Homo sapiens: one gene and its partners. The protein of the gene in region 1 purifies or fractionates together with the protein of each later gene. This does not show direct contact. Each region holds a gene or a part of one and is shown on either strand. Other genes may lie near its edges.

Region 1 (4,342 bases):
AATTTCTTAAAAATCCAGCCCACTTCCCACATTCCATCCTGCGGATTAGGAAATCATTTGAGGCCAGAAAAGTGATGTGATTTGTCCAAGGGTGAATGGCAATGGCTCAACTAAAACTAAGGTCTTCACCCAGTATATGATGTTTTTCATTCTAACCAGCACTTACTACTTGCTAAAAGGAATTTCGTAAGCTTTTCTTTTTCTTTTCTTTCTTTCTTTCTTTTTATTTTTCAGACAAGGTCTTGCTCTGTTGCTCAGGCTGGAGTGCAATGGCACGATGTTGTCTCACTGTAACCTCCACTTCCTGGGTTCAAACGATTCTCCTGCCTCAGCCTCCCAGGTAGCTGGGACTACGGGCATGCACTACTATGCCCGGCTAATTTTTGAATTTTTAGTAGAGATGGGGTTTCGCCATGTTGGTCAAGCTGGTCTTGAACTCCTGACCTCAAGTGATCTGTCCACCTCCACCTCCTAAAGTGCTAGGATTACAGGTGTGAGCCACTGCGCCCCCGCTGGCGCTTTGCTTTTTCTTTACAGTCTTCCTCTCATTAGCATGTTTCCCACCCTGCTGAGAATGCTATCCCTGACTCGTCCTCTTCTATTATTATTCTCCTTTTATGCCTTCCTGGGAGCTCGGACATCAACAAAGTTCAGCATTCCAGATTCCTTCTCTACCTGCTCTACTCTGTGGGAAACTGGGTACTTACATGATGGATTTAGTTGCCAAATTATCTTTCTTTGGAAGTAACAGCCCCTTTTCTCCCTCACGGGGAATTCTAAGTTTGCAGCCTGAATTTGACAACCGGGGGAAGGTCTGAGAGTTAGAGACAAGTATCTGTTCTTTGTGGGTATTTATTCACTTACTCAACAAGTAGCTGTATGTGTCCCCTAAGCCAGGCAATCTTCAAAGCTCTGAGAGTCTAATAGTGAACAAAACAGCCCAAATCCCTACCCTCATGAAACTTGCATACTGATGGGTAGAGACAGACATTTAAATAGGTGAAACACATTGTGAGCTGGTGGGAAGCACAAAGAGAACACCAGAGCAGAAAAGAGGGACAGGAGTTTCTGTGGTATGGTGGCTGCAATTTTAAATATGGGAGTCATAGTCTTTGTAAAAGTGACTTACGGGCAAAGACTTGAAGGAGGTGGAGCCTTAAGCCTGCCAATGTTGTGAGGGAAATAGCTCCTGACCAAAAACACAGCCTGTGCCATAGACCTTTGTCCTCACCAGTTACTAACTTACTGCTTTGGGGGGTCAATGGCAATGGCCCTGTGAGAAGCTGACCGAGTGGAGGCTCCTGAGTAGAGGAACCTGACCCTGCCCTGGGCAGAAGGGTGGTGTCTTTTAAAAGATTATGCAAAGTGGGAGAAGGATGTGCATTAGTGTTGGAAGACCCACCTTGCTTTGTAGGCAAGAAAGCATAGTTGTTCTATAAGTGGGCCTTTCAAAGGGGGGCTTACTACATTTATATGATTTGTTTGGTTTTTCCTTCCCTTAGTTTGCTATAATTAAGCCTGCTCTCTCCATTGGTGGCATTTTTCTTGATTAAGTCTCCTTTCTAAAGAGACTGGTTGTGAAGAGGCAGATGGTTTGAGTAGGTGCTGCGAGTGTTTGCTGGCCAAGTGCAGGGCAAGTTGGGTATATTTGTAAGCTCGCTGTGGATGGTAGCTCCAGAGCCTAAGCACGGTGCTGCCTCCTCTGTGCATCACTGGGTCATGCAATTTACCTCTGTGCCTTAGCTTCTGTATATTGGGGTAGTAATGTCACCTAACTCATAAGGTTGTTAGAATTAAATGAGTTTAATACCTATAAAGCATTTAGAGAAGTTGTTGGTACATGGTAAGTTTTAATAAATAGGTACTTAGAAAGTACTCATTGAATAAAAAAGTGATGTTTGTGTTTATCCAGGCTGTACCTTTGGGAGCTGGCTTATAATCTTGAGACTTAAAATTAGAATTTATCCTAGTGATCAAAGATAAAAGTTTGGAACCTTGGCTGTACATTTAGCTACAGGGCTAGAAGAACTGTTTTTGTGAAAATAATTTGCTTACCATAGTGAAGGGCAGGTCTTCTTGGTTACTAAGTTAACATGGATAAGACTTTTACTTTGTCCTGTAGATTAAATACATGTAGGCCCTTTTGTGCTTAAAAAGATTTGTCTGGGCAGGGCGTGGTGGCTCATGCCTGTAATCCTAGGACTTTGGGAGGCCCAGGCAGGAGGATCACCTGAGATCAGGAGTTGGAGACCAGCCTGACTAACATGGTGAAACCCCATCTCTACTAAAAATACAAAATTAGCTGGGCATGGTGGCCCATGCCTGTAATCCCAGCTACTCCAGAGGCTGAGACAGGAGAATGGCTTGAACCTGGGAGGAGGAGGTTGCAGTGAGCCAGTGAGCCAAGATGGCGCCATTGCACTCCAGCCTGGGCAACAAGAGCAAAACTTCATCTCAGAAAGAAAAAAAAAAAAAATTTGCCTGTAATGAACTCCAAAGTGCAGGTTGCTCAAAAGTTACATGGAAACTTGACTGTCATAGCTGGATTGATTCTGGAAGCCTGTGCAGGAGAGGTCGGAGTTCCAGAGAGGCTGGGACCTTCAGCTAGGACCCCAGCCAGGCTGTTGGGCAGGTTGCAGCGATAGTGCAGCAGAGCCCAGAGCTGGCAGCCAACTACTATGGTCATGGCACCTGATTGGGGATGTGGTTTGCAAATAAGTGTCTGTCCTTGTCCATCAGGGGAGTTGGGATCAGGCAGTTTGGGATTTGGGTAGTGGGGTTTTGAGCAGAGGTCTGTGGTTCCCTGTTACATCCCCTATTTGCATGAAGAATCTTCTAGAAGGAAAGCTGGCCTAGTACAGAGGAGGGTCCTTGGAGTGGAAGCAAATGGCTCCCTTCTCCTCTAATTGACTCAGTAGAGGTTGGTAGAATAGAGGTTAAGGGGCAGGGATGCTTGTGTGGCCTTGGAAAAGTTAGCTTCACTTTCCTTTCTGTGCAGTAGGGATGATGAGAACTGTCTACTTCCTGACGTTGCCCCAAGGATTAAAAGAATGTAAGACTCTCAAAACAAGCTTCTTTGACGTCCCATCCACAGTGCAGAAGGCCCCCATTACCCCTGCACTGTGCGGTTGGCTCTCCTTTGCACCCCTTAATTGACCAAAAAGCAGCTTCTGTCACCCTGTAAATCCTTGACCTTGAAGAAGTGGGTGGCTAAAGGTGCCACAGTCAAGATTCCTCAGCCACTCGGCTACTACCCTTACCCTCAATTTTGCAGTTTATGACACTTTAGCCAGAAGCTAAGTGACTTGCCCAGGTGTTCCAAGGTAGGTGGCAGAGGCTCGATGGTGCATTTCTTTCCCTACCATGGGCTTGTCATTGGCTTGCTAGAAGGAATTGCAAACTTCTACCCTCCAGCAGGAGACACCCTGGGTTTGGTTCTCCCTGAGGCCTTTCCATTGTGAGGAAATCATTCCACCCATCAGTCTGGTTGGGAAGCACCCAAACAGATTCTCTTCAAAAAGTCATTTTTGAAGTTATAGTCCAATTTTGACTGGTTAGAGACAGGTCAGACCTACTTACTTTGCTGGCTAAGCTTTTTTTTTTTCTTTGCCCCTCACCACAAGCCTGGACGGGAGACGTACTGCTTGGTATCTGGTGCTTGAGAGGTCCCAGGAGATAAGGGAGCATTTCTGTGAAAGGTTTTGCCAGAGCCTGTCAGGAACTTAATCTTGACTGCAATGAATGACTTAACATTATAAGTGATCTTTGGGTTTAGGTGCCCAAATACCAGTCCCTCCTTAGTAAGCAGCCTTTTAGACCTAACCTTTTCTACCTAAGGTTTTGTTCAGTCTTTTTGAAAAGCAGGAAGGCCAGGTCCTTGTGAGGCTTTTCTCATTACAAGCTCTTGGCAGGTTCTTCCCTCCAAGTGGAGAACCCTTACCTTCCCCATTCTTTCTACCTTCCCCTCTGATGATCCAGAGGGCTGCAAGGGACCTAGAGCTGTTCATTGGAGCCCTAGTCAGCTCTAGCGGCCAGATCTATGGTTAGGTAATCCTCCAATAGTGAGACTAATTCTCAGTGTTAGAATTAGGGGTCTGCCTGTTCTCACCAGCAGACCCACTGGCATCAACTCTCCTTTGTTGACATATAGTTAAGCACCGCTTCTTACAGATCCTCATACTCAGAGCCAACCTTGTCTTGTCTCATAACTCTTGCTACTGGCAGAAGGTGATAAAATTGTGGCCTAGAGGCCAAATGTTTTTTGTTTGGCTTACAGAATTAGATTACTTCTCAACACATTTATTACTTTACAACATTAGATTACTTCTTAACACACTTATGC
Region 2 (3,312 bases), on another chromosome or scaffold:
GCCTCACAATCATGGCCTGAGGTGAAAGATGAGCAAAGGCACATCTTACATGGCGACAGGCAAGAGAGCGTGTGCAGGGGACTGCTCTTTATAAAACCATCAGCTCTTGTGAGTCTTATTCACTATCACAAGAACAGAACTGGAAAAACCAGTCCACGTGATTCAGTTACTTCCAATAATTTTTTCCAATTCTGTGGAAAATGACATTGGTAATTTGATAGGAGTAGTATTAAATCTGTAGATTGATTTCAGCAGTATGCCCATTTTAGCCATATTAATTCTTCCAATCCATGAGCATGGAATGTTTTTCCATTTGTTCATGTTATCTATGATTTCTTTTAGCAGTGTTTTGTAATTCTCTTAGAGATCTTTCACATCCTTGGGTAGAGGTATTTCTAGGTATTGTGTGTGTGTGTGTGTGTGTGTGTGTGTGTGTGTGTGTGTGTCTGTTGTAAATGGGATTGTGTTATTGATTTGGTCCTCAGCCTGAACATTATTGGTATATAGATATGCTACTGATTTTTTTTCTTTTTGAGACAGAGTCTTGCTCTGTCACCCAGGCTGGAGTGCAGTGGCGCGATCTCAGCTCACTGCAAGCTCCACCTCCCAGGTTCACGCCATTCTCCTGCCTCAGCCTCCCCAGCAGCTGGGATTACAGGCGCACACTGCCACGCCTGGTTAGTTTTTTGTATTTTTAGTAGAGGTGGGGTTTCACCGTGTTAGCCAGGATGGTCTCGATCTCCTGACCTTGTGATCCGCCCTCCTTGGCCTCCCAAAGTGCTGAGATTACAGGCGTGAGCCACCGTACCCAGCTACGCCCCGTTAATTTTTGTATTCTTTAGTAGAGACGGGGTTTCACCATGTTGGTCGTGCTGGTCTTGAACTCTTGACATCGTGATCCGCCTGCCTCGGCCTCCCAAAGTGCTGGGATTACAGGTGTGAGCCACGGTGCCCGGTGCTACTGATTTTTATACATTGATTTTGTATCCTGAAATTTTGCTGAAGTCGTTTATTAGTTCCAGGGGCCTTTTGGTGGAGTATTTAGGGTTTCCAAGGTATAGAATCATATCGTCCATGAAGAGTTTTCACTTCTTCATTTCATATCTGGATGCCTTTTCTTTCTTTCTCTTGCCTGAGTGCTCTGACTAGGACTTCCAGTACTATGTTGAATGGGAGTGGTGAGCGTGAGCATCCTTGCCTTGTTCCAGTTCTCAAGGGGAATGCTTCCAGCTTTGGCCCATTCAGTATGATGTTGGCTGTGGGTTTGTCATAGATGGCTCTTACCATTTTGAGGCATGTTCCAATGGGAACTTTCTAATGTTTTTTAACATCCAAAAGAGCAAACACCTCTTCCATACTTTTTCAAAATGTATTATTTTACCCAGATAAAATTTAGAATTAAAAGATTTCCTCCATCCTTCCCTCCCGAAAAACCTCAGTTGCCGTTTTATCAATTCGCTTTAAAATTAAAAATTAATCTAGAAACACTGAATATTTTATTAATATTCAGTATTTCCTTATCAAAGGAGATAACATTTGGTGTCAAGTATTTTATTGTAACTGAGTTGTGATTTGTGTTCCTCTTCAAATAAATTATTCCTGTTTCTTATGGCTGTTTAGTATTTTGTATCCATTATGAGTTGGATAACCTTGTAATTCTGTTTGCTAATTTATTGCATTTGCTATGTTTTTAACATTCCTCCAGACATACATTTCTATTTCAATATTGTAGTTTCATCTTAGGGGTTTTAAATGACGTTGAAAATAATGATTATTGTGTCTGCCCTCTTCCAAAAGTCTTGCCTCATTTTAATTTTCCATCTTGTTGCCTAGGCCAGACCTTTCAGAACAATATTCAGCTGTGCTTAGGGAAGGCAGGTGTTTGGGTCCTGATTTGATTTCTGGGGAAGGCCTCCAAAGTGTCACTCTTAGCAATGGCATTCACTTTTGGTTTCATATAGAAATTCTCATCATCAAGAACACAGCTTACTATTCTAAAAGGGTTTGAAAAAAATCAGAATTGCTGTTTAATTTTACCAAATGTCTTTCCAGCCTCCATAGAGACTGCCATTTTATTTAATTACGCTATTGATATGGTAGAGTACTGATGATCAAAGATCATTTACAGTCTTGGGATAAATCATTTTGTTAGGTTTTCCTGGGTGCTCTCATATATAGTCTGCCGAGACTCTGCTGGTAAGAATTCTGGAAGGAAGTGATCATTTCTTGTGAGGGTGGGTGGGAGTTGATTAGATGGGGCAGAAGGGGACTTTCTGGGGTGTGGCAGTTTCTATGTCTTGATCAGGGGATAATTACACAGGCCTATAGTCAAAGTTGGTCAGAACACTTACAAAGTGAGCATTTACTGCATGTCACTTATGTCTCAATGAGCCACCAGCACACAGAGCCCAAGAGCTATGGAGGACCAGAGGTTTGTCTCCATCTCCATGGAGACCCAAGAGGGAAAGCGCTGCAGGTCTCTTGCTGGCTAGTGGTCAGGGTCAGTACTAGACTGCAGGACTCCTGACTCTGACCAGAGCATTCCCCACTGTGTGTTACAGGAACAGGCAGAAGCTGAAGGGTGTCAGAGGAGGAGGCTGCTGGTTCCAGTGAATGACGCTGACTCCGCTGACAGTAAGTGTTTTGTGCCTTGAGACGCAGCAGGAGGACAGGGAATAGGGACGGTGTCCTAACTGCTGTCCCTATAGCTGAGAGGGCTCTTCTGGAGGTTTCACTGCTGGAAGCAGGGGGCCCCATGTCGATCCTGTGCTGATCGTCCTTGGAGCATTGAGACCCTAAATCTCTTCTCTCTTCTCAGTCAGCACCTTGCTGGATGCCTCGGCAACACTGGAAGAAGGACATGCAAAGGAAACAATTCAGGACCAACTGGTGGGCTCCGAAAAGCTCTTTTATGAAGAAGATGAGGCAGGCTCTGCTACGTCCTGCCTGTGAAAGAATCTCTTCAGGAAACCAGAGCTTCCCTCATTTACCTTTTCTCCTACAAAGGGAAGCAGCCTGGAAGAAACAGTCCAGTACTTGACCCATGCCCCAACAAACTCTACTATCCAATATGGGGCAGCTTACCAATGGTCCTAGAACTTTGTTAACGCACTTGGAGTAATTTTTATGAAATACTGCGTGTGATAAGCAAACGGGAGAAATTTATATCAGATTCTTGGCTGCATAGTTATACGATTGTGTATTAAGGGTCGTTTTAGGCCACATGCGGTGGCTCATGCCTGTAATCCCAGCACTTTGATAGGCTGAGGCAGGTGGATTGCTTGAGCTCGGGAGTTTGAGACCAGCCTCATC
Region 3 (4,342 bases), on another chromosome or scaffold:
ACCATGTTGGCCAAGCTAGTCTCCAACTCCTGACTTCAGGTGATCCACCTGCCTCAGCCTCCCAAAGTTCTGGGATTACAGGCATGAGCCACCGTGTCCGGCCATCTTTATTCTTTAGCTTTGTTGACAACTAAAAATCATTAACTTACTCAACTGCCTGTTATATGGAAGGCACTGTTTGCCTTAGGGTTAAATACTAGCAGATTGTTGTGTTGTGTTTGTTGTTGTTGTTGTTGTTTTTAAGACAGAGTCTTGCTCTGTCCCAGGCTGGCGTGCAGTGGCACAAGCCAAACTCACTGAAACCTCTGCCTCTCCAGCTCAAGCAATCCTCCCACCTCAGCCTCCTGAGTAGCTGGGACTACAGGTGTGTGCTACCACACCTGGCCAATTTTTTGTATTTTTTTGTAGCAACGGGGGTTTTGCCATGTTGCACAGGCTGGTTTCAAGCAATCTCCTACCTCTCCCTCCCAAAGTGCTGAGATTACAGGGGTGCACCAGTGCCCTGGCAAATTGTTACATTTTTATGTTGAAGTAATTTCAGTTGTTAAAATGTAACTACATATATGCAATTTCTTCAGGAATTTTCAGACAAGGAAGTACAAAACTCTCACTTGCTTTTGACATGTTTTTACATCTGGTTTTTAAATTTCTTCACCAAACACACTTAGAGTGCATGTGGTTTTCATTGTGGGTGGAGGGGGGGGTACAGGCTGACAAATAAGGAACCACACCCAAGCTTCACAAACCAAACAGAGGTTTTTTTTTTGTTGTTTTTGTTTTTTTTAATTCCTTTAGTGATACTCTAAAACATTTGAGTTTGCTTTGGTATTAGTCGAAACTTCCCCATAAAAAATAATGTGATATTTTATAGTAAGGTAGCTCTTAATGCAGTGTCTTAAATTTGTTTTTACTGATCTTTTTGGCACATGATGAATCAAAATGTTTGACTCTCAAGTAGAGTCTTAGTTTTGAATCTCTGCTCTGAAGGAATTATTTATGTGATTTTTGTCTGCGTATCTTTTTAAATAATTGCTTTTTAAATAATTTTAAGGCTTTTTTGAACAAGTGTTTTATAAGCCTTAGTTTAATCCACAAAACAATTTAAAAAGCTACTAAATATTAAGGGGGAAAACCTGAAAACTTTTCTTAAAATGCACTATCTTTGAAAATGGTCCTTGGCTGGGTGCGGTGGCTTATGCCTCTAATCCCAGCACTTTGGGAGGCCCAGGCAGTCAGATCATCTGAGGTCAGGAGTTCAAGACTAGCCTGGCCAACATAGTGAAACCCCGTCTCTACTAAAAACTAGCTGGGGGTGATGGCATGTCCCTGTAGTCCCAACTACTTGGGAGGCTGAGGCAGGAGAATCGCTTGAACCCAGGAGGCGGAGGTTGCAGTGCACCGAGATTGTGCCATTGCACTCCAGCCTGGGCGACAGAGTGAGACTCCATTTCCAAAAAAAGAAAAATGGCCCTTTGACTCTCATGATTCTTTTTTGCTGCAGCTGTGGGGGGTAGTAGAGACAGGGTCTTGCTATGTTACCCAGGCTGGTCTTGAATTCCTGGACTCATGAACTCCTGGGCTCAAATGATCTCTCTACCTCACCCTCCCAAAGTGATGGGATTACAGGCATGAACCACAGTGTTCAGCCTCTCCTAATTTTTACTCAGCTTTATATTGGGATGAAGAGACAGAGAAGTAGATCATATGAGAGGTAGGAATGGTAAGAATAAAATATTGAGCACTATTGGCCGGGCATGGTGGCTCACGCCTGTAATCCCAGCACTTTGGGAGGCTGAGATGGGCAGATCATGAGGTCAGGAGATCGAGACCATCCTGGCTAACACGGTGAAACCCTGTCTCTACTAAAAAATAGAAAAAATTAGCCGGGCGTGGTGGCGGGTGCCTGTAGTCCCAGCTACTCGGGAGGCTGAGGCAGGAGAATGGCACGAACCTGGGAGGCGGAGCTTGGAGTGAGCCGAGATCGCGCCACTGCACTCCAGCCTGGGCGACAGAGCGAGACTTCGTCTCAAAAAAAAAAAAATTGAGCGCTATTGCCAATGCTGGAGCAAGTCAATGTTAGTGAACAATTTGGCCAAGTGTGATAATACAGGTTAGCTGAAATATCTGGAGGAAAACAAGATTTTATTTTATTTATTTATTTTTTTTGAGACGGAATCTTGCTCTGTCACCCAGGTGGAGTGCAGTGGCATGATCTCGGCTCACTGCAACCTCTGCCTCCCGGGTTCAAGCGATTCTCCTGTCTCAGCCTCCCGAGTAGCTGGGATTATAGGCGCCTGCCACCACGCACAGCTAATTTTTGTGTTTTTAGTAGAGACGGGGTTTCACTCTGTTGGTCAGGCTAGTCTCCCAACTCCTGACCTCAGATGATTCGCCTGCCTTGGCCTCCCAAAGTGCTGGGATTACAGGCGTGAGCCACCGCGCTCAGCCGATTTTATTATTTATTTTTGAGACTGAGTCTCGCTGTGTAGCCCAGTCTGGAGTGCAGTGGCGCTATCTCGGCTCACTGCAACCTCTGCTTCCCAATTCAAGCAATTCTGCCTCAGCCTTTGGAGTAGCTAGGACTACTGGTGTGTGCCACACTCCTGGTTGAAAACAATATTTTAAATTTAGGAAAAAAATATTCTATAACTTATCTAAACACATTGGTGGTGTTTTTTTCTTGTGTAAAATGAGGAAATTAAGATCTCTTGTTTTTAAGGTATTGCTGCTTCTACCACTAGAATCGTGATTCAGGTTTTTTGTCATATTGTTCCCTTTATTTTAAGACTTAAAACTTTATTTTAACTTGTAAATTCAAATAAACGGCAAACATTTATCAAATACCTTAAGGCTGTGTCAGAGCATATATGTATCAGATTACCATTTTTAATCATAGATTTTTCTTTTAACTGTGGATAAACTTAAAAAGTTATTGGTAACAGTATATGCTTATGGAAGAAAATATAGAAAAACATGGGCTGGGTGCAGTGGCTCATGCCTGCAATCCCAGCACTTTGGGAGGCCAAGTTGGGTGGATCACTTGAGGTCAAGAGTTTGAGACCAGCCTGACCAGTGTGGTGAAACCCCGTCTCTACTGAAAATACAAAAAAAAAAATTAGCTGGGCACAGTGGCTGGTGCCTGTCATCTTAACTACTTGGGAGGCTGAGACACGAGAATCGCTTGAACCTGGGAGGCAGAGGTTCCAGTGAGCTGAGATTGAATCATTGTACTCCAGCATGGGCGACAGAGTGAGACTCCATCTCAAAAAAAAAAAAAAAGAAAAAGAAAAACATGGAAAAAGCACAAGCAAGAATAACATTTTCTATTCCCACTACCTACAGGTAAGCCACTAATAACATTTTGATGATATGTTTCTAATAATTATGTGCATATACAGTAAACACATAAAGAAAATTGAGATCGTGATATACATTCTGCTTTGTAATGTGTTCTGTTGACTTAGAGTGGAAACATTTCCTCTGACATTAACTATTTGGACATATTTTAATTGTCTGCACATTATTTTATTGAAGGGCTTTTTCATACTGAATTAATTCTATTGTGTATATTCAAGTTATCCCTAATTTCCCTTTGTGATTACAATGCTGCATTGCACCTCCTTGTGATGAATTTTTATGGGTCTTTGATTTCTTCAAGGTAGATTTTTAGATGGCAAAGAATTGTACTGTATGCATACTGTATATTTTTTTTTAGGTCTCACTATGTTGTCCAGGCTAGTCTTAAACTTGGGGACTCAAGCAGACCTCTGTCTTGGCCTCCCAGGAAGCCAGGATTACAGGCGTGTGGTTTACTATATATTCTTAATTTATCTATATGGTATTGTGATCTTGTTCTCTTTTTAAAAATGCAATATGCACTTGCACTAATATGTTTTAAAGATATATTTGTGGGCTGGGCACGGTGGCTCACGCCTGTTATCCTCAGCACTTTGGGAGGCTGAGATGGGCGGATCATGAGGTCAGGAGTTTTGAGACCATCCTGGTTAACATGGTGAAATCCCGTCTCTACTAAAAATACAAAAAATTAGCCCGGTGTATTGGTGGGCGCCTGTAGTCCCAGCTGCTTGGGAGGCTGAGGCAGGAGAATGGCGTGAACCTGGGAGGTGTAGGTTGCAATGAGCGGAGATCGCGCCACTGCACTCCAGCCTGGGCGACAGAGCGAGACTCCTTCTCAAAAACAAACAAATAAATAAATAAATAAAGATATATTTGTGTGGGCCAGGCGCGGTGGCTCACAGTTGTAATCCCAGCACTTTGGGAGGCCGAGGTGGCCCCGTCTCTACTAAAAATACAAAATTAGCCAGGTGTGGTGGCGCATGCC
Region 4 (4,342 bases), on another chromosome or scaffold:
GAAATCATAAGAGTTGTGGAGCCGGTGTCTGGGTGTGGCCTGGCATGAGGCTGGCCTGGCCTGAGCCCGTGCTGGGCCTCTGAAGCCAGCCTTGGAGCCTGGACTCTCTCCCATGGTCAGTGGGGACCAGGAGGGGCCGCAGGCCAAGGGGAACTCGGCCAGGTTTGCATCCAGCGGGTGGAGATGGGTGTGCCTGGGGACTCACCCTCCCGGTGCCCAGCCCAGCCTGGCGGGGAGAAGCCCCAAGGCCCACAAGTTGGCCATAGACACAAGTGCAGCCTCAATGTGGTAGCCCACTGAGGGGTCCGTGTGGTCCTTGCAGGGTGCTTTTGAATGCTTTGACTTCTTTGCCTCCACTGAGAAAGTGACAGACTTCACTTCCAAAGCCGTTTCTGGCATCTGGTGACAGACCAGCTGGAGGCGAGTGGCAGCTGCCTCCACGGGCAGGGCACTGGCTCTTCTGGGCCACAGGCCGCACCCGACCCACCTCAGCTCCACGCCCTGCCTGGCTCTGTGGCCACTTGCATGTAGGCTTTGCCCCCACCAAGGTGTCTCCAAAAACCCAGCCCCTGCCTGGCTTGCCAGATGTGAGGCCTGCCTGTGACTGTCCCAGCAGGAGGCAGGGCACTTGAATTCACACATGGGGCCTTGTGGCCAGCACTGTCCTGGGGCCCCATAGGCACTTGTGTTTGCTGCCCTTGACCGGGCCTCAGGCCTCCCAGGACCTTCTCGACTCCCTGTTGGTTTTTTTTTTTTTTTTTTTGAGAGACATTCCTGCTCTGTCTCCCTGGCTGGAGTGCAGTGGCGCCACCTCGGCTCATGCAACCTTCGCCTCCTGGGTTCAAGCGATTTTCCTGCCTCAGCCTCCCGCGTAGCTGGGATTACAGGCGCCCACCACTATGCCCATCTAATTTTTGTATTTTTAGTAGAGACGGGTTTTCGCCATTTTGGCCAGGCTGGTCTCAAACTCCTGACCTCAGGTGATCCTCAGCCTCCCGAGGTGCTGGGATTATAGGCGTGAGCCACTGCTTCTTGCCTCAACGCCCTGTTCTAACAGCAAAGTCTGGCCTTGTGTCCACCTTGACTTCCTGGGGCCCCTGGGCAAGGCCCGGCTTCAGGCAGACAGCCACGGCCAGGAGAGACAGGGCAGCGGCAGACCACGGATTTTGTGGGATCAGTGTTTTCTACACGTTACAGGCAGGCCTCTGGCTGGAGGATGCCTGGCAGCCCCAGGCAGGGTCCGGGTTTCGTGGGATCAGTGTTTTCCACACATTAGAGGCAGGCCTCCGGCTGGAGGACATCTGGCAGCCCCGGGCAGGGTCCTTGTCAGCAGGGCCCACGTTCTCAGCTCACTGTGGCCTTTGCACAGACACCTCACTCACTACGTGGTTTAGCAAAAGTTCACTGAGCCCCTGCTGTGCGCCAGATGCTGGTCTAGGTGCTGAGATGGAGCAGGACCCGAAGCAGACAGGAAAAAACAATCCCTGCCCAGAGCATGCACTAGGCAGAGCCGGGAGCAGACAGATGCCTGTGTGCTCTGTATCAGCTGCTGTTAGGTGCTCTAGGTAGAATGCAGGCAGGGCAGGGGCCGGGGAGGGCAGGGGCTGGCATTTTAGATGATGGGAGGCCAGCAGAAGCCTCACTGAGAAGCTGAGTTTTGAGCAAAGACCTGAAGGAGTGGAGGGAGGGAGCCACAGGGACCCTGAGAGCTGATGTTCCAGGCAGAGGGAGCCGCCAGCGGAGAGGCCCTGGGCGCAGGGGGGCGGGGGTGGGGGAGACACCCGTGTGTCTGGAAATGGAACGGGGGCAGAGGGGGCCTGCAGGACACGACTCAGACCACAGAGGGTGGGGACCGGGTGACTCGGGATGCACTGGATGCTCTGCCTGGTCCCCATCTGCATTTGCATTTGCCACCCGGCTCCTGGGACCCCCTTGCCCTCTACTTTGGGACCAGGCCTTTCTGACTCTCCCTGTCCCCCACTCCTTGTTGTTCATGGGAGCAGAGAGTGTGGTTTTGGGGCTAAGGAACACTGGCGCCCACATGGGAGGAAGTGCCAGGCCAGGCCCTGGCCCCAGCGCCCTGTCATTTGCAGCCCTCGGGGCTGATTATGGGGTGGGTCAATTTCTGCCCTTCCTCCCCCAAACCCCTCAGGGCAGGACTATTCCACCAGTGTGAGGAACAGGAGAAAAACAAGGGGGGCCTCTCCAGGGTCCCACCGAGCCCAGGGGGCAGCAGCCTGGCCATGGCGATCACTCCTCTGGCCCCTGCAGCTGTGTCCCCAGGGAGGGGAGGGGCTGCACTGCCCATGCCATTGTCACTCCATGGCATCTCTTCATTGCGTCTCTGTCTTGTCTCTGTGTGTGTCGTGCTGTCCTGTCCCTGCGTGTCGGATGCACGTCCTGTGTGCCCCACTCCTTGCTGGGCCCCCACCCACCATTGCCTGGGACCCCAGACCATCGTGCGGGGCAGCAAAGGTGCCAAAGATGGGGCCCTCACGCTGCTGCTGGACGAGTTTGAGAACATGTCGGTGACACGCTCCAACTCCCTGCGGAGAGACAGCCCGCCGCCGCCCGCCCGTGCCCGCCAGGAAAATGGGATGCCAGAGGAGCCGGCCACCACGGCCAGAGGGGGCCCAGGGAAGGCAGGCAGCCGAGGCCGGTTCGCCGGTCACAGCGAGGCGGGTGGCGGCAGTGGTGACAGGCGACGGGCGGGGCCAGAGAAGAGGCCCAAGTCTTCCAGGGAGGGCTCAGGGGGTCCCCAGGAGTCCTCCCGGGACAAACGCCCCCTCTCCGGGCCTGATGTCGGCACCCCCCAGCCTGCTGGTCTGGCCAGTGGGGCGAAACTGGCAGCTGGCCGGCCCTTTAACACCTACCCGAGGGCTGACACGGACCACCCATCCCGGGGTGCCCAGGTAACCCATCCCCCGCCCCAGGGCCCCCACTGTCCCCTGCCCGTTGCTCCTCTGTCCCCACCTTCCAGCCCCGCCCCACCACCGTGCATCTCATCCTGACCACCCATGTGTCTGTCCCATCGCTGGGTCTCTCTCCTGCTTAGGGAGCAGAGCTGCTCCCTGGCACCCATCACTGACAGCTACCTCTCTTCTGTTTCAGGGGGAGCCTCATGACGTGGCCCCTAACGGGCCATCAGCGGGGGGCCTGGCCATCCCCCAGTCCTCCTCCTCCTCCTCCCGGCCTCCCACCCGAGCCCGAGGTGCCCCCAGCCCTGGAGTGCTGGGACCCCACGCCTCAGAGCCCCAGCTGGCCCCTCCAGCCTGCACCCCCGCCGCCCCTGCTGTTCCTGGGCCCCCTGGCCCCCGCTCACCACAGCGGGAGCCACAGCGAGTATCCCATGAGCAGTTCCGGGCTGCCCTGCAGCTGGTGGTGGACCCAGGCGACCCCCGCTCCTACCTGGACAACTTCATCAAGATTGGCGAGGGCTCCACGGGCATCGTGTGCATCGCCACCGTGCGCAGCTCGGGCAAGCTGGTGGCCGTCAAGAAGATGGACCTGCGCAAGCAGCAGAGGCGCGAGCTGCTCTTCAACGAGGTGCGGGCGCTGCTGCCCTGCCGCCCTGCTGGTCCTCCCACCCCTCCCTCCCACCCTCCCTCCCCTCCTCCCTCCTCTCCCTGCACTCCTCCGTGCTGGGCCAGGCTCCCCTCCTCCCCTCACTCTTCTCCCTCCCCAGGCCGTCTCGTCCGCCCCAGCTGGGTCCCTGCCTCTGTCCTCACAGCACCCTCACCCACATCTCTGTCCCTGAGCCCCAGACCCAGGGTTCCTCGGGCCACTGACCCCCGACCCAGTGTCTTCCAGGCCCCTCGCACCCACTGAGGCCCGCCTGGGCTCCAGGGTACAGTGTCCTCCAGACCTGCCCCTCCTGGGTTCCCTGTGCCCCGCCCTGGCCTCCACTCCTGGGTGTCCCTCGGCACAGCCCACACAACCACCAAGAGTATGTTTCTGACGTTCAGGCCCACCCCCTCCCCGTCCCTCCTTAGAGACCCTGGCAGTGCCCCGTAGCACCCTGACGATAGGAAGCCCAGGTCCCTTTGCCGGGTGTGTGAGGCCCCTCTCGACCCCGTTGCCCATCACAGTGCCGGGCTGCACCATGGAGCTCCTCGCCTGGGTTCCTCATCCTCCCGCCGACACACGCCTCTTCTCTCATCCTTGCCCTTGTCCGGGTCTCAGCCCTGTGATTGAACGCTCTCTTCCCACCTGCCCCCCAGCACTAGCCCAGGACTGACCTGAGATGGGCGTGTGCCCAGGGGGGCGCGCCCCCAGAAGGGAGGCGTGGGCTTCAAGCTGGCTCTGAGGCCCACGTGGCTGTGGCAGTAGGGGAGGGCAGTCC
Region 5 (4,342 bases), on another chromosome or scaffold:
ATTTGTTCAAATTCTCAGGCAGGAAAGAAGGATATTATTATGAGCTAACTCACTATCTCAATACTCTCCCCTACCACACTGGTCCACTTCCAAGGTCATACCCTAGGTCAGTCCCTAGGTCAAAGTTTGCAGACTTCCCCGGTAAGGGATGTTCCTCTGGCATGCTTGTAAATCTCCCCTGGAAAATATGATTCAGCAGGTCTAAGACTCCTGGTGATTTTTATCTTTAGGGAAGCTGAGATCCTGCCAAACACCCAAAGAGGTAGGCGGTGGGAGGCAAAGGACTCTGTAGAGAATTTAATAATCTAAGAATTTAATAATCAATAAAATTGTCTGTCAGTCAGCTTCCTACAGTGCATTTTAACAATTTCAGAGATGAAACACGCCTCCCGCATGAGAGACCACTCCGGCTGTGCCTCAACTCAAGCCACCCACCCCAGCCCTCCTACCCTAGTAGGCCATCACCAGTGATAGCTCTCCTTGGAAATCTGGACTTCAAGCACCCAACTCTAGCCACGCCTCATCTTTCTGGTTTTCTCCTTCCAGAGGCCAAGCTCCAACAAGGCTGTGGCCTGTCAGGTGAGAACCTCTATTCAATTCATCCTACCAATTTCTAGTGTCCCTTCTACCCCCTTTCCCTTTGAGAACTCACTTGGCAAAACTCTCAGCCCAATTAAACCCGACCCTCCACTGCACCGGACCCACTGAACCCAGCAGGAGGACAATCACAACCCCACCAAGACATCATATTTAATTAATTAATTAATTAATTATTTTAGAGACATAGTCTGGCTCTGTAGACCAGGCTGGGGTGCAGTGGCGCGATCTCGGCCCACTGCAACCTCCACCTCTCAGGTCCCGGTTCAAGCAATTCTCCTGCCTCAGCCTCCCCAATAGCTGGGATTACAGGAACTCGCCACCATGCCCAGCTAATTTTTGTATTTTTAGAGGAGACGGGGTTTCACCATGTTGGCCAGGCTGATCTTGAACTCCTGGCCTCGTGATCCACCTGCTTCAGCCTCCCAAAGTGCTGGGATTACAGGTGTGAGCCACCACACCTGGCCAAGATATCATATTTATTAAGACCATAAAAGACACATAGCACATTGCAGCAATCCTATGACATTTTCCTAGTAAATTTACTCCCATTTTCTACTCTCCTCAACCCTCCAACACCTTTCCCCATTGAATGACAATCTCACTTCCCAATTCACTGAGATGAATTCAGAACCAGGCCACTTTTCCCCTATGGAATCCACTAGTCACCTATAGCAGTCATCTACAGCTTCAGACCAGGCACTCTTTCCTGTTACCACAGATGAGTTGAATGGGCGCGGTGGCTCACACCTGTAATCCCAACACTTTGGGAGGCCAAGGTGGGCAGATCACTTGAGGTCAGGAGTTCAAGACCAGCCTGACCAACATGGTGAAACCCCGTCTCTACTAAAAATACAAAAATTAGCCGGGTGTGGTGGTGGGTGCCTGTAATCCCAGCTACTCAGGAGGCTGAGGCAGGAGAATCACTTGAACCTGGGAGGCAGAGGCTGCAATGAGCTGAGATCATGCCACTGCACTCCAGCCTGGGTGACAGAGTGAGACTCGGTCTCAAAAAAATAAAATAAAATAGATGAGCTGTCCTGTGGGCGGCAAGCCACCCAGGCACCGAGGCAAGAGACAGAGGACACGAGCTGTTCCAGTATAATAAAATATAAAACAAGAATAGTTATACTAGATATAGATCTTATATATGATTATATATGAATATCATTAATCATTAGTTTGTAGCAATTACTTTTTATTCCAATATTATGATAATCCTTGCTCTATAATCATAGCCTAGGAAAAACCAGGCCATACAGAGATAGGAGCTGAGGGGACATAGTGAGGTGTGACCAGAAGACAAGAGTGCGAGCCTTCTGTTATGCCCGGACAGGGCCACCAGAGGGCTCCTTGGTCTAGCGGTGACGCCAGCGTCTGGGAAGACGCCCGTTACCAGGCGGATCGTGGTCCAGCGGTAGCAAAAGGTGTCAAGGAACAACACCCGCTACTTAGCAGACTGGGAAGTGGCGGCGGCGGGAGGGGGGGGGGTGTCTCCCTTTCCCCAGGGGAGTTTAGAAAAGACTCTGCTCCTCCACCTCTTGTAGAGGGCCTGACATCAGCCAGGCTCGCCCACAGTTATCCAGAGGCCTAACCATCTCCCTGTGATGCTGTGCTTCAGTGGTCACACTCCTAGTCTGCCTTCATGTTCCATCCTGTACACCTGGCTATGCCTTCTAGATAGCAGTAGTAAATTAGTAAAAATACTAATAGTCCCTGATATGCAGAAATAATTGCGTAAGCTGTCTTTCTCTCTGTCTCCTCTCCCTCCCTGCCTCGGCTGCCAGGCAGGGAAGGGCCCCCTGTCCAGTGGACACGTGACCCACATGACCTTACCTATCCTTGGAGGTGACTCACATTCTTTACCCTGCCCCTTCTGCCTTATATGCAATAAATAACAGCGCAGCCCAACATTCGGGGCCACTACCGGTCTCCGCGCATTGATGGTAGTGGTCCCCCGGGCCCAGCTGCCTTTTCTCTTGTCTCTTTGTCTTGTATCTTTATTTCTACACTCTCTCGTCGCCGCACACAGGGAGAGACCCACCGACCCTATGGGGCTGGTCACTACACTATCCCTGCTCCATGGGGCCTGATTCCATATCCCCTCTCCTCCTTAAGGACTTCCATACTCCACTAAAACTGCTCTTCCGTCCAAAGACCAGCCTGATCTCCATACCTGATGCAAAATTACCTAAGACCATGTTTCTACCAGCAGCACAGATTGCATGAATGACTTGCCCTCCTTCCTGAAACCCTTTCTTTACTTGGCTTCTGTGACTGTCCTGTGCTTTTCCACCTACCTTCCTGGTTCCTCTTTAGCTAACAGACTTTAGGGTTTGGGGGCCCTCAGGGCTCCATCATCTCCCAGTTCTCTTATGTTTACCAATTAAGCTCATCCAGTCTTATGGCTTTACATACCTTCTCTACGGGGATGACTCCCACGTATTTATATCCAGCCCAAACTACTCCCCTGAACTTGAGACTCGATGTGATCCAACTGCCTCCACAGCACCTCCACTTGGATGTCCAGTTGGATCTATTATGTGTCATGTTGGAGTCCTCATGGCTCCTTTGCCCCCACTACCGGTTACTCTCCCAATCTTCCCATTTTAGGAAATGAAACCACCATTCAACCAGCTACTCTGCCCAAAAACTTAAGATTTGATTCCTCTTTTCCTCTTTCACCTCAATCAGCACGTTTTTGGCTCAACAAGTGAAATATATAAGCAATCCAACTGCATCTCACCACCTTCATCTAAACTGTCACTTCTCAGGCTGGGCGCGGTGGCTCACAGCCTGTAATCCCAGCACTTTGGGAGGCCAAGGTGGGCGGATCACCCGAGGTCAGAAGTTCGAGAGCAGCCTGGCCAACATGGTGAAATCCCATCTCTACTAAAAATACAAAAATTAGTTGGGCGTGGTGGTGGGCACTTATAATCCCACCTACTCAGGAGGCTGAGGCAGGAGAATTGCTTGAACCTGGGAGGCGGAGGTGGCAGTGAGCTAAAATAGCACCACTGCACTCCAACCTGGGTGAGAGGGAGACTCTGTCTCCAAAAAAAACAATAAAGAAATAAATACACTGCCACTTCTCAGTTGGACACTGCCACACTCTCTTCACTGGTCCCATGCTCTAACATGCCATTCTCCCCACAGCAGCCAGAAGAGGGAGGCTCTTAAAAATTTAAGTTACATCACCTCCATCATTCTACTAAAGTAAACAAAACTAAACAAGCAAACCCTCCAATGGCTTCCCTCAATCTTCGGGCCCTATCTGCATGACTGCCTGCCCCTCCTCCATCTCTCCACTTTCCCCACTCACTAGCTGTTCAACACACAGGCTTCCTGACTGACTTCAGGCAAGCTCCACTCATTTCCACCTCAGGGCTTTAACCCAAGCAGTTCTCGGCCTGGAAGGCTCCTCTCAAGCACCTAATACAGTACCTGGCACACAGTAGGTGCTGAAAAAAACCTGGAAACAGGAAAGAACCTAGTATATCCCTGCTAGAGGAACCAAGAGTGCACCAGGGTGACTCAAATAGAGGCATAAGATGAGTTGGGACTTCAGTCCCAGTGAAGTGGGGAACCTACAGTTTTCAGGGGCCAGCATTCAGAGACCAGATTTGTCTTTTGAAAAGACCCCATTGGCTGCTGTGTGGATCTGCGGAGCAAGAGATCCAGGGAGACCTGCAAGGAGAGAGACCAGACTGGGGTGGTGACCGTGGAGACAGACAAGTGGCAGATC
Region 6 (3,906 bases), on another chromosome or scaffold:
TAGGGCGGTGAGCTGGTCCCCAGACACATCACTAATCCCAGAAGAGTGCAGGCCCTGCTGCCTCCGTTCGGACTAAACCCCGCACTGGCTGCTCCAGCCTCCGCTGCTTCCCCACCCCACCCTGCTTTGCCCCATTTGGATCATCCAGGTTCGGAGAAAGCCACAGAGCATGGAACAGAAAGGTGGCCAGGTGGAGAGGCTGGAGGAGTTGGGGGGAGGTGGGACTCGAAGAGGGAGTCCGTGATTTGGGGTCTGCACCTACAGGGCTCAGGAGCAGCTCTGGGCAGGGTCTGCAGCCATCGAAGGGGACTGTCTCCCACTGCAACCCCGGCTGGGACATCGCTAGCAGGATATTCGCTCTCCAGAGTTTTGAGCCCGGCAATAGCCACCAAGAGTCCTCACCAAGAGGCAGGGCCTGTCCCTGGGGTGGCCATGGTGTGGCTGTTAAGGGGGTTGTCATGGGGCCAGGGCTCGGAGGCATCGTTCTTGTCCTGTGAGTCTCGTTAAAGGCCCCTGAGGTTGCAGAGGCCCCATCAGCTGCTCCTGAGCCACACCGAAGTCTGTACCAGGGGCTGAGGTGCCCTCTCCCCAACGAGGGGAGCGTTGGGGCAGGGAAAGGGGAAGCTAGAAGCAGCTAGAGAGCGGTGCCTGTGCTGGATCCCTGGGCCCCTGGAGGGTTCCTCACCGGGCTGCCGGGTTATGTTTGCGGTGTTTGCACAGCTGAAGACGCAGCTGGAGTGGACAGAAGCCATCCTGGAGGATGAGCAGACACAGCGGCAGAAGCTCACGGCCGAGTTTGAGGAGGTCAGGCCCTGCCTGGTGGCTCTCAGCCCCCATCAGCCCCTGGGCCCTGAGTCTCCAGGGAATGAGTGGGTCAGCCCTGCCCCGCTCGGCTGTGCCCAGCAGCACCTGGGCTGGGCCTGGGCCTTCTGGGCAGCAGTGGGTGGGGCCCGGGCAGGTGGAGCACAGGCTGGAGGCACCTTGGGAGCCCTGTGGGTGGTCTGCATCCCTGAGGAGCCTTGAGGGCCTGGGGCTGGGTCAGAACTTGTGGGTCTGGCCCACTCATTCCAGCTACAGGATGGAGCTGTTGCTCCATCAGGCTGGGGGGGCCCCCTGGTCCCCAGGCGTGCTCGGTAGGGTCTTGACAGCACAGCCGTTTATAAGACGTCTCACCCAGACCTCACTTCCCTCTCCGGCAAGGCTCAGACCTCGGCATGTCGGTTACAAGAAGAATTGGAGAAGCTCCGCACAGCCGGCCCCCTAGAGTCTTCAGAAACAGAGGAGGCCTCACAGCTGAAGGCAGGCAGGGGCTGGGGCGGGGGTCACACCTGGAGGGTCTGCTCTGGGGCTGGCGCCACTCTTGGCCTCGGAAAGGGGCCAGGAAGGGGAGAGCCGACCCCACCGGGACCTGCCCTTGGCACTGGTTCCCCTTGTCACTACCCGGGGCTGGGGTGGGGACTCCTAGCCCTGCAGTGTCACATGGTCACATGGCAGCCATTAGTCCTGGTGGCTGTCGAAATGTGAAGCATGTAGAACGTGAAGTGCGTTCCTCAGCCACACGTCCAGCGCTCAGTAGTCAGGTGTGTCTCCTGTGCTGCCTTGGACAGTGCGGAGTAAACTGCTCCTGCCCCAGGAAGTTCTGGTGGTGCTGAGAGCACAGGACCCAGCCCTCACGGTCAGCATGGGCGGTTTCCTCCCTGTCGTCACCACCTATCTCCGGGTGACCAGGAGTTGCCTTCCTTGTGTCCCCAGAGGGCTCCAGCCCCTGGCGTCAGGGTCCTGTGGGCATAGCTGGGGTGGCCCTCCTGCCGGTGCAAGGGCTGATGCCCGTCAACCTTCTGACCATCAGGAGAGACTAGAAAAAGAGAAGAAGTTAACAAGTGACCTGGGGCGCGCCGCCACGAGACTGCAGGAGCTTCTGAAGACGACCCAGGAGCAGCTGGCAAGGGAGAAGGACACGGTGAAGAAGCTGCAGGAACAGCTGGAAAAGGCAGTGCGTGCCTGGCGCCAAAGCAGGGCGGGAGGAGTCGAGCTGCCGGGAGCCCCGGGGAGGCAGGACCGGGAGAGGCAGAGCTGGGCGGAGTCGTCAAGCTGCTGGGAGCGCTGGGCTGGGAGCCCCAGGGGAGGCAGAGCTGGGCGGAGGTAGTGGGGACAGAGACTTCCTAACGAGGGCTTCAGCCCACCCGGCCCACCACCCACCCTTCTGGGGTTCCCTTGCTGGGAAGCGAGTGTCTGATCCCCCTGCTGGCCCAGGTCCTCACTTTGCACCTGTGTGGGCCCCTTAGCCAGTGCTCCAGCCCCTGCCCTGCAGGATGATGGTTTCCCCTCAGCTCCCACCAAGTCCTCCCTGTCCCCCAGCCCCAGGGGTCTGTGGCTCCTGTTCTCTGAGGGACTGGAGTGGCTTGAGGGGGTCAATCCAGGGAGGGACTAAAGGCCCAGGGTAGAGGGCAGGTGGTTCTGCCATGGCTCGTGGCCCAGCCCCCCTCACGCCACCTGCCTTCGTTCACAGGAGGACGGCAGCAGCTCAAAGGAGGGCACCTCTGTCTGAGTTTCCTCTTTGGAAAAAGAAGTTACTGTTCAACTTACCAAAATGCCTTACACATTCCTTACAAATAAACCAACCAACCTACACAGCGTTATCCAGGCCCAACTTCCGGTAGCTCCGAGAGAAGCCATGAGAGACAAGTCTCTTAGAGCCACAGAAGTAGACCTTCCAGAGCCCCAGTTTGTAAATGAACCTGTGTCACATTTGATAAACACTATCCTGGGCGCAGCCCCGGGCCACCGCCGAGTGACGCCAAAGCCCTGGTTGACTCTGACAGCCCCGTGGGTGTGTGGGAGGCCGGGCGCTCTGGGGTCTGTCTGTCAGTGCAATCGTTTAGTGTTTTTTCAGTGGGGCGGGGCGGGAAGCGGGTGGGACCGGGCAGCCAGTTCTCAAAGGCTGTGGGGCCGACTGGAGGCCACAGCCCCTCACCCCTAGACGTTGCCAACCAGAACTGACGTGTGACCTCCTGGGTGTTGATGCCATTAAAACCAACGTTGGTGCCCGGTGCTGCGGTCTCGTCTGGTCTTCTGCTGGGGCTCCCCCACCCGCTGTTGGGCCCAAGATGAAGAACCAAGGGGTGGGGGCGCACTCGGGAAGAGAGTAAGCGTGGGCCTCAGCTGCTTTGAAGGCAGAGGCTCTGCAGCTCCGCGTAGCGTGGGGTGGGGCTGAGACTCGCTGCTTCCGGGGCCCCCAGCAGTTTTCCTTGTCACCTCCCAGACCTCAGTGCCCTCCGGGCAGGATAAGGGAGCAGGGCCTGCGACACCTGAGAGCCAGATACATTTACTGCTGCCCCGCATCCCGGAGGGGCTGAGGTTTGTGAGCGCGGCTGGTGGCCCGGGCTGTTGCGTGATGGAGGTCCGGGAATGAACAAGGGGTCTCTGTCCTGGCTGGGGCTTAGACACCCACACCCCAGGAGGGTGGGCCAGGGCTGGAGCAGCCCACTGCCTGCCCTCGGGAGGTGGAGTTTCACCTGCAGAAACCAGCTTAGGTTTGCCACGACCCTCAGACCCAGTGTCCTCAGCGGCCCCTGACAGCATGGTCTTTGGCCCCAAGAAGTGTGTCCCTTTGAGTGTAAACAATAGGAACCTGGAGCTTAGTCCACAAAGACGTTCAGAGGCTCAGAGTCACAGTAGGGCCCCAACCAAGCCCGGAATGGAAGGCGGGTCTGCCTTGACCAAGGACTGTTCACTTTAATCTCCCTGCCAAGCCTCGGAATCTTGGGAGAGGGTCTGCTTGGCCGAACTTGGCTGGGGGACAACTGGGCTCTTGGATGGCAGGTCCTCCAGGACGACATTGTGAGAAGGGTTCTGTCAGGGACAGTGGCAGCAAGAACCGGGGTCTCCACAGGCCTATGAGCTTGG
Region 7 (4,342 bases), on another chromosome or scaffold:
AGTGCGTGAATATTGGAATCATTAGAATGCATAAAAACAGTAATAGTTTTTATAGCAACTCTGTTGCTATAAAATTCATTGAATTTCTCATATCAGTTGCCCTGAAAAATCCTAAATATCACTGTTGTTCACCTAGTAGCAACTCTTTGAATTGTAGCCAGATGTCTAGAAGAAGGTTGTTCTTTAGTAGTAATTCCTGCTAAAGTATGTGGAACACCCCCTCCTTACAAGTACAGAGCTGGGCAGGATGGCTTGCACCTGTAGTCCCAGCTACTAGGGATGCATAGGCAGGAGGATCACTTGAGGCTAGGAATTAGAGACCAGCCTGCTCAACATAGTGTGACTTCATCTCCAAAAACATAATTAAAAAACAATTAGCCAGGTGTGGTGGTGCACACCTGTAGGCCCAGCTACTTAGGAGGCTGAGGCAGGAGGATTGCTTGAGACCAGGAGTTGGAGGCTGCAGTGAGCTATGATTGCGTCACTGTACTCCAGTCTGGATGACAGAGTGAGACCCCGTCTCTCTCTCTCTCTCTCTTTAAAAAAATGTTTTTTAAGAGACAGGGTCTTGCTATGTTGGTCAGGTTGGTCTTGAACTCTTGGCCTCAAGCGGTCCTCCTGCCTCTGCCTCCCAAAGTGCTAGGATTATAGACGTTAGTCGCCACGCCTGGCTGAGACAAGTATTACTACAGCATCTACATGCATTTGAAAGTGTGCTAGTATTCCATGCATAAAAAATGATGAGTTCATGTCCTTTGTAGGGACATGGATGAAGCTGGAAACCATCATTCTCAGCAAACTGTTGCAAGGACAAAAAACCAAACACCGCATTTCTCACTCATAGGTGGGAATTGAACAATGAGAACACGTGGACACAGGAAGGGGAACATCACACACCGGGGCCTGTTGTGGGGTGGGGGGAGGGGGAAAGGATAGTATTAGGAGATATACCTAATGCTAAATGATGAGTTAATGGGTGCAGCACACCAACATGCAACATGGCACATGTATACATATGTAACAAACCTGCACTTTGTGCACATATACCCTAAAACTTAAAGTATAATAATAAAAAAAAAGTGTGCTAAACATTGATTTTACAGATGAGTCACTCACCCCAAGCTGTAGCCTGAGGCCTACAAACTGGAAGTACCTGATTTAGCAGGCGAGAATTCTACCCCTGAACCACCAATGCTACCAGCAGGAAGTACCTGATTTGGAAATCCAACTCTTTGGGAGTTAAAAGAACTTTTATTTTGTTCATTGCTAGTCTTCGGAGCCTAGAAAAGTGCCTGGCACATCCTGGTGGTTCACAACAAATATTTGTTGAAAAAAATCAATGAATTGACTCTGGCTTTTGCAGGTACTCCTTGTTGTTTTTCGCCCAGCTAATTTCTTTTTTTTTTTTTTTTTTTTTTTTGAGACGGAGTCTTGCTCTGTGGCCCAGGCTGGAGTGCAGTGGTGTGATCTCAGTTCACTGCAACCTCCGCCTCCCAGGTTCACGCCATTCTCCTGCCTCAGCCTCCCGAGTAGCTGGGACTACAGGCACCTGCCACCACGCCCAGCTAATTTTTTTGTATTTTTAGTAGACACGGTTTTTCACTGTGTTAGCCAGGATGGTCTCGATCTCCTGACCTCATAATCCGCCCACCTCGGCCTCCCAAAGTGCTATGATTACAGGTGTGAGCCACCACCCCCCGGCCTCACCCAGCTAATTTCTAAAAAGCACCAGACCTTCAAGCTTTTGTTCGCAGCAGAATTCTCTTACCATTTTCTGAAGGATGTTTTCTTCCTTGTTATTTTTTTCCTTCCCATTAATTATGTAGATTTATGTTATTAGGTAATACTGTTTTGAGGATCTATACATATTTGTCATTTACTGCTATTAAAGTGTTCAATATAGTTTCTAAACTTTGAATTAGTTATTTTAGCTCTATCTGCTATATCTTTCTTGAAGCAATGTATTCATTTGGTGGTGTTTTAACGAAATTAACAGCTAATCTTGGCGAGCTCTTCAGTTGATCTTTCATGTCGTAACAGCTCCATCTTGTGAATCTTTAGGGTACTGCTGCTGGAAACCGAAAGCCCTGACTTGTTCTTTTCACAGACCTACAGATCTCTCGTTTTTACACCTGAGAAGTGGACAAAATACTTGAAAACCTAGTGGACAAGGTGAAATTTAGTCAAAGATTGGTTCTGAGGTTTTCTACCCAGGATTAATAATTAGTGTTACATTTTCTAAACCATCTGGTTATTTTAGAGGGAAACAGGGATAGAGCAGTTTCTTCAGTCCTAGATTTAAGTAATATCTCCATTCTTTTGGTTTTTATGTTGTATTGGGTAAGTGAGGTATCAGGAGGCTTGGAGCAGAAACCTATGGATGCTTTAGTCTCCCATGGTTTCAGCAGGAACTTAAAATGACAGAAGTTCTACACTTTTGAATCAAAATCAGTGTAGTTTTTCTGCTTGGTAGCAGCAGGTAATTATTGACTTGAAACCTTTGACTTATTCCCTTGTGGCTTATCAGTTCCCGTTTTTTGATGGAAAGTAGCAAAGAAGTAATTCTAAAGAGTGGTGTAACCAAGTGATTTTCATTTTAAGTTAAGTTCTTAAAATGTACTTTACCAGTCTGGGGTAACATGGCAAAGCTCCATCTCTACAAAAAAAAAAAAAAAAAAATATATATATATATATATAAATTATATATATATATAATTTATATATATATTATATATATAAATTATATATATGTTATATATATAAATTATATATATAGTATATATATAAAAATTATATATATTATATATAAATTATATATATAGTATATATAAAAATTATATATATTATATATAAATTATATATATAGTATATATAAAGTATATATTATATATATAAGAATTATATATATAATATATATAAAAATTATATATATAATATATATAAAAATTATATATATTATATATATATAAATTATATATATTATATATATATAAATTATATATATTATATATATATAAATTATATATATTATATATATAAATTATATATATTATATATATATAAATTATATATATTATATATATATAAATTATATATAATATATATATAAATTATATATATTATATATATATAAATTATATATAATATATATATAAATTATATATAATATATAATTATATATATTATATATATAATTATATATATATTATACATAAAAATTATATATAATACATATATAATTTATATATATAAAATTATATAATATATATAAAAATTATATATATATGCACATACACGCACACACACACACATATATACATATACACACACACACAATTAGCTGGATGTGGTGGCATGCATCTGTAGCTCCAGCTACTCAGGAGGCTGAGATGGGAAGATTGCTTGAGCCAGGGTGGTTGAGGCTTCAGTGAGTCAAGCTCATACCACTGCACTCCAGCCTAGGTGGCAGAGTGAGACCTTGTCTCAAAAAAAAAAAAAAAAAGTACTTTTTATAAGCATAATTGCAGGCCAGGTGCGGTGGCTTACACCTGTAATCCCAGCACTTTGGGAGGCTGAGGCGGGTGGATCACCTGAGGTCAGGAGTTTGAGACCAGCCTGGCCAACATGGCGAAACTCCATCTCTACTAAAAATACAAAAATTAGCCAGGTGTAGTGGCACGCCCCTGTGTTATCCCAGCTACTCAGGAGGCTGAGACAGTAGAATCACTTGAACTCAGGAGGCAGAGGTTGCAGTGAGCCAAGATTGTGCCACTGCACTCCAGCCTGGGTGACAGAAAACAGTAATTGCAGATTTAGCTTCATCTGTGCCCTTTGTAGAGGCTAAAAACTGAAAAACTGCAGTTAAAGTTCTATTCCGTGAAAAAAAATAGTATTCTGAATAATTAAAGCTCAAGTTTAATTAAATAACCTATGGCATATTTAACTCCAGTGTGCAAAATGGGTTGGCAAAGTATGGTTTGTTTTTTCATTGTGTTTTTAAACTGCACATCTGGGAATTTACTCCCTGAATATATCATCTATTTTATAGTAGTCAGTTTAAGGCTATAAGCCAATTACAGTAGAACTATCATTGATTAAAATATTTTTAAAGCATATTCTCTTATCTTCAAGGTCAAAGTCCTTTTCAGGGGGGCTTTATTTCTAAAAACAGCCGAATTGGGAGAATAATGTGGATAATGAAGCTGATGAGTTTTGTTTGATGCTAAAACTAAAGTATGACCAAGTAATTAGGCTGATGTGGGGTTCGTCTTATAAACTAAAGTATGATCAAGTAATTAGTCTGACTTGGGGTTTGTCTTATAAACTGTCTCTGAAATAGAAG

What was found.
Region 2: the proteins of MTHFD1 (region 1) and TNFRSF10D purify together in Homo sapiens (co-immunoprecipitation; one large-scale study listed by IntAct). This does not show direct contact.
Region 3: the proteins of MTHFD1 (region 1) and STK38 purify together in Homo sapiens (affinity purification with mass spectrometry, with the first as the bait; one large-scale study listed by BioGRID). This does not show direct contact.
Region 4: the proteins of MTHFD1 (region 1) and PAK4 purify together in Homo sapiens (co-immunoprecipitation; one large-scale study listed by IntAct). This does not show direct contact.
Region 5: the proteins of MTHFD1 (region 1) and AHCY fractionate together in Homo sapiens (co-fractionation; one large-scale study listed by BioGRID). This does not show direct contact.
Region 6: the proteins of MTHFD1 (region 1) and RRBP1 fractionate together in Homo sapiens (co-fractionation; one large-scale study listed by BioGRID). This does not show direct contact.
Region 7: the proteins of MTHFD1 (region 1) and PPA1 fractionate together in Homo sapiens (co-fractionation; one large-scale study listed by BioGRID). This does not show direct contact.

What each region holds. Positions count from the first base shown.
Region 1 is NC_000014.9:64,390,952-64,395,293, forward strand, and holds part of MTHFD1 (C-1-tetrahydrofolate synthase, cytoplasmic), read left to right. Parts: intron 1-4,342. UniProt on the Homo sapiens protein: Trifunctional enzyme that catalyzes the interconversion of three forms of one-carbon-substituted tetrahydrofolate: (6R)-5,10-methylene-5,6,7,8-tetrahydrofolate, 5,10-methenyltetrahydrofolate and (6S)-10-formyltetrahydrofolate.
Region 2 is NC_000008.11:23,137,510-23,140,821, reverse strand, and holds part of TNFRSF10D (tumor necrosis factor receptor superfamily member 10D precursor), read left to right. Parts: intron 1-2,561; coding exon 2,562-2,634; intron 2,635-2,818; coding exon 2,819-2,952; 3' UTR 2,953-3,312. UniProt on the Homo sapiens protein: Receptor for the cytotoxic ligand TRAIL. Contains a truncated death domain and hence is not capable of inducing apoptosis but protects against TRAIL-mediated apoptosis. Reports are contradictory with regards to its ability to induce the NF-kappa-B pathway.
Region 3 is NC_000006.12:36,540,769-36,545,110, reverse strand, and holds part of STK38 (serine/threonine-protein kinase 38), read left to right. Parts: exon of another isoform or gene 1-3,342; intron 3,343-4,321; exon of another isoform or gene 4,322-4,342. UniProt on the Homo sapiens protein: Serine/threonine-protein kinase that acts as a negative regulator of MAP3K1/2 signaling. Converts MAP3K2 from its phosphorylated form to its non-phosphorylated form and inhibits autophosphorylation of MAP3K2.
Region 4 is NC_000019.10:39,170,465-39,174,806, forward strand, and holds part of PAK4 (serine/threonine-protein kinase PAK 4), read left to right. Parts: intron 1-2,453; coding exon 2,454-2,912; intron 2,913-3,111; coding exon 3,112-3,546; intron 3,547-4,342. UniProt on the Homo sapiens protein: Serine/threonine-protein kinase that plays a role in a variety of different signaling pathways including cytoskeleton regulation, cell adhesion turnover, cell migration, growth, proliferation or cell survival.
Region 5 is NC_000020.11:34,296,532-34,300,873, forward strand, and holds part of AHCY (adenosylhomocysteinase), read right to left. Parts: intron 1-4,342. UniProt on the Homo sapiens protein: Catalyzes the hydrolysis of S-adenosyl-L-homocysteine to form adenosine and homocysteine. Binds copper ions.
Region 6 is NC_000020.11:17,612,824-17,616,729, reverse strand, and holds the end of RRBP1 (ribosome-binding protein 1), read left to right. Parts: intron 1-720; coding exon 721-804; intron 805-1,200; coding exon 1,201-1,299; intron 1,300-1,849; coding exon 1,850-1,993; intron 1,994-2,509; coding exon 2,510-2,548; 3' UTR 2,549-3,051; downstream 3,052-3,906. UniProt on the Homo sapiens protein: Acts as a ribosome receptor and mediates interaction between the ribosome and the endoplasmic reticulum membrane.
Region 7 is NC_000010.11:70,219,414-70,223,755, reverse strand, and holds part of PPA1 (inorganic pyrophosphatase), read left to right. Parts: intron 1-4,342.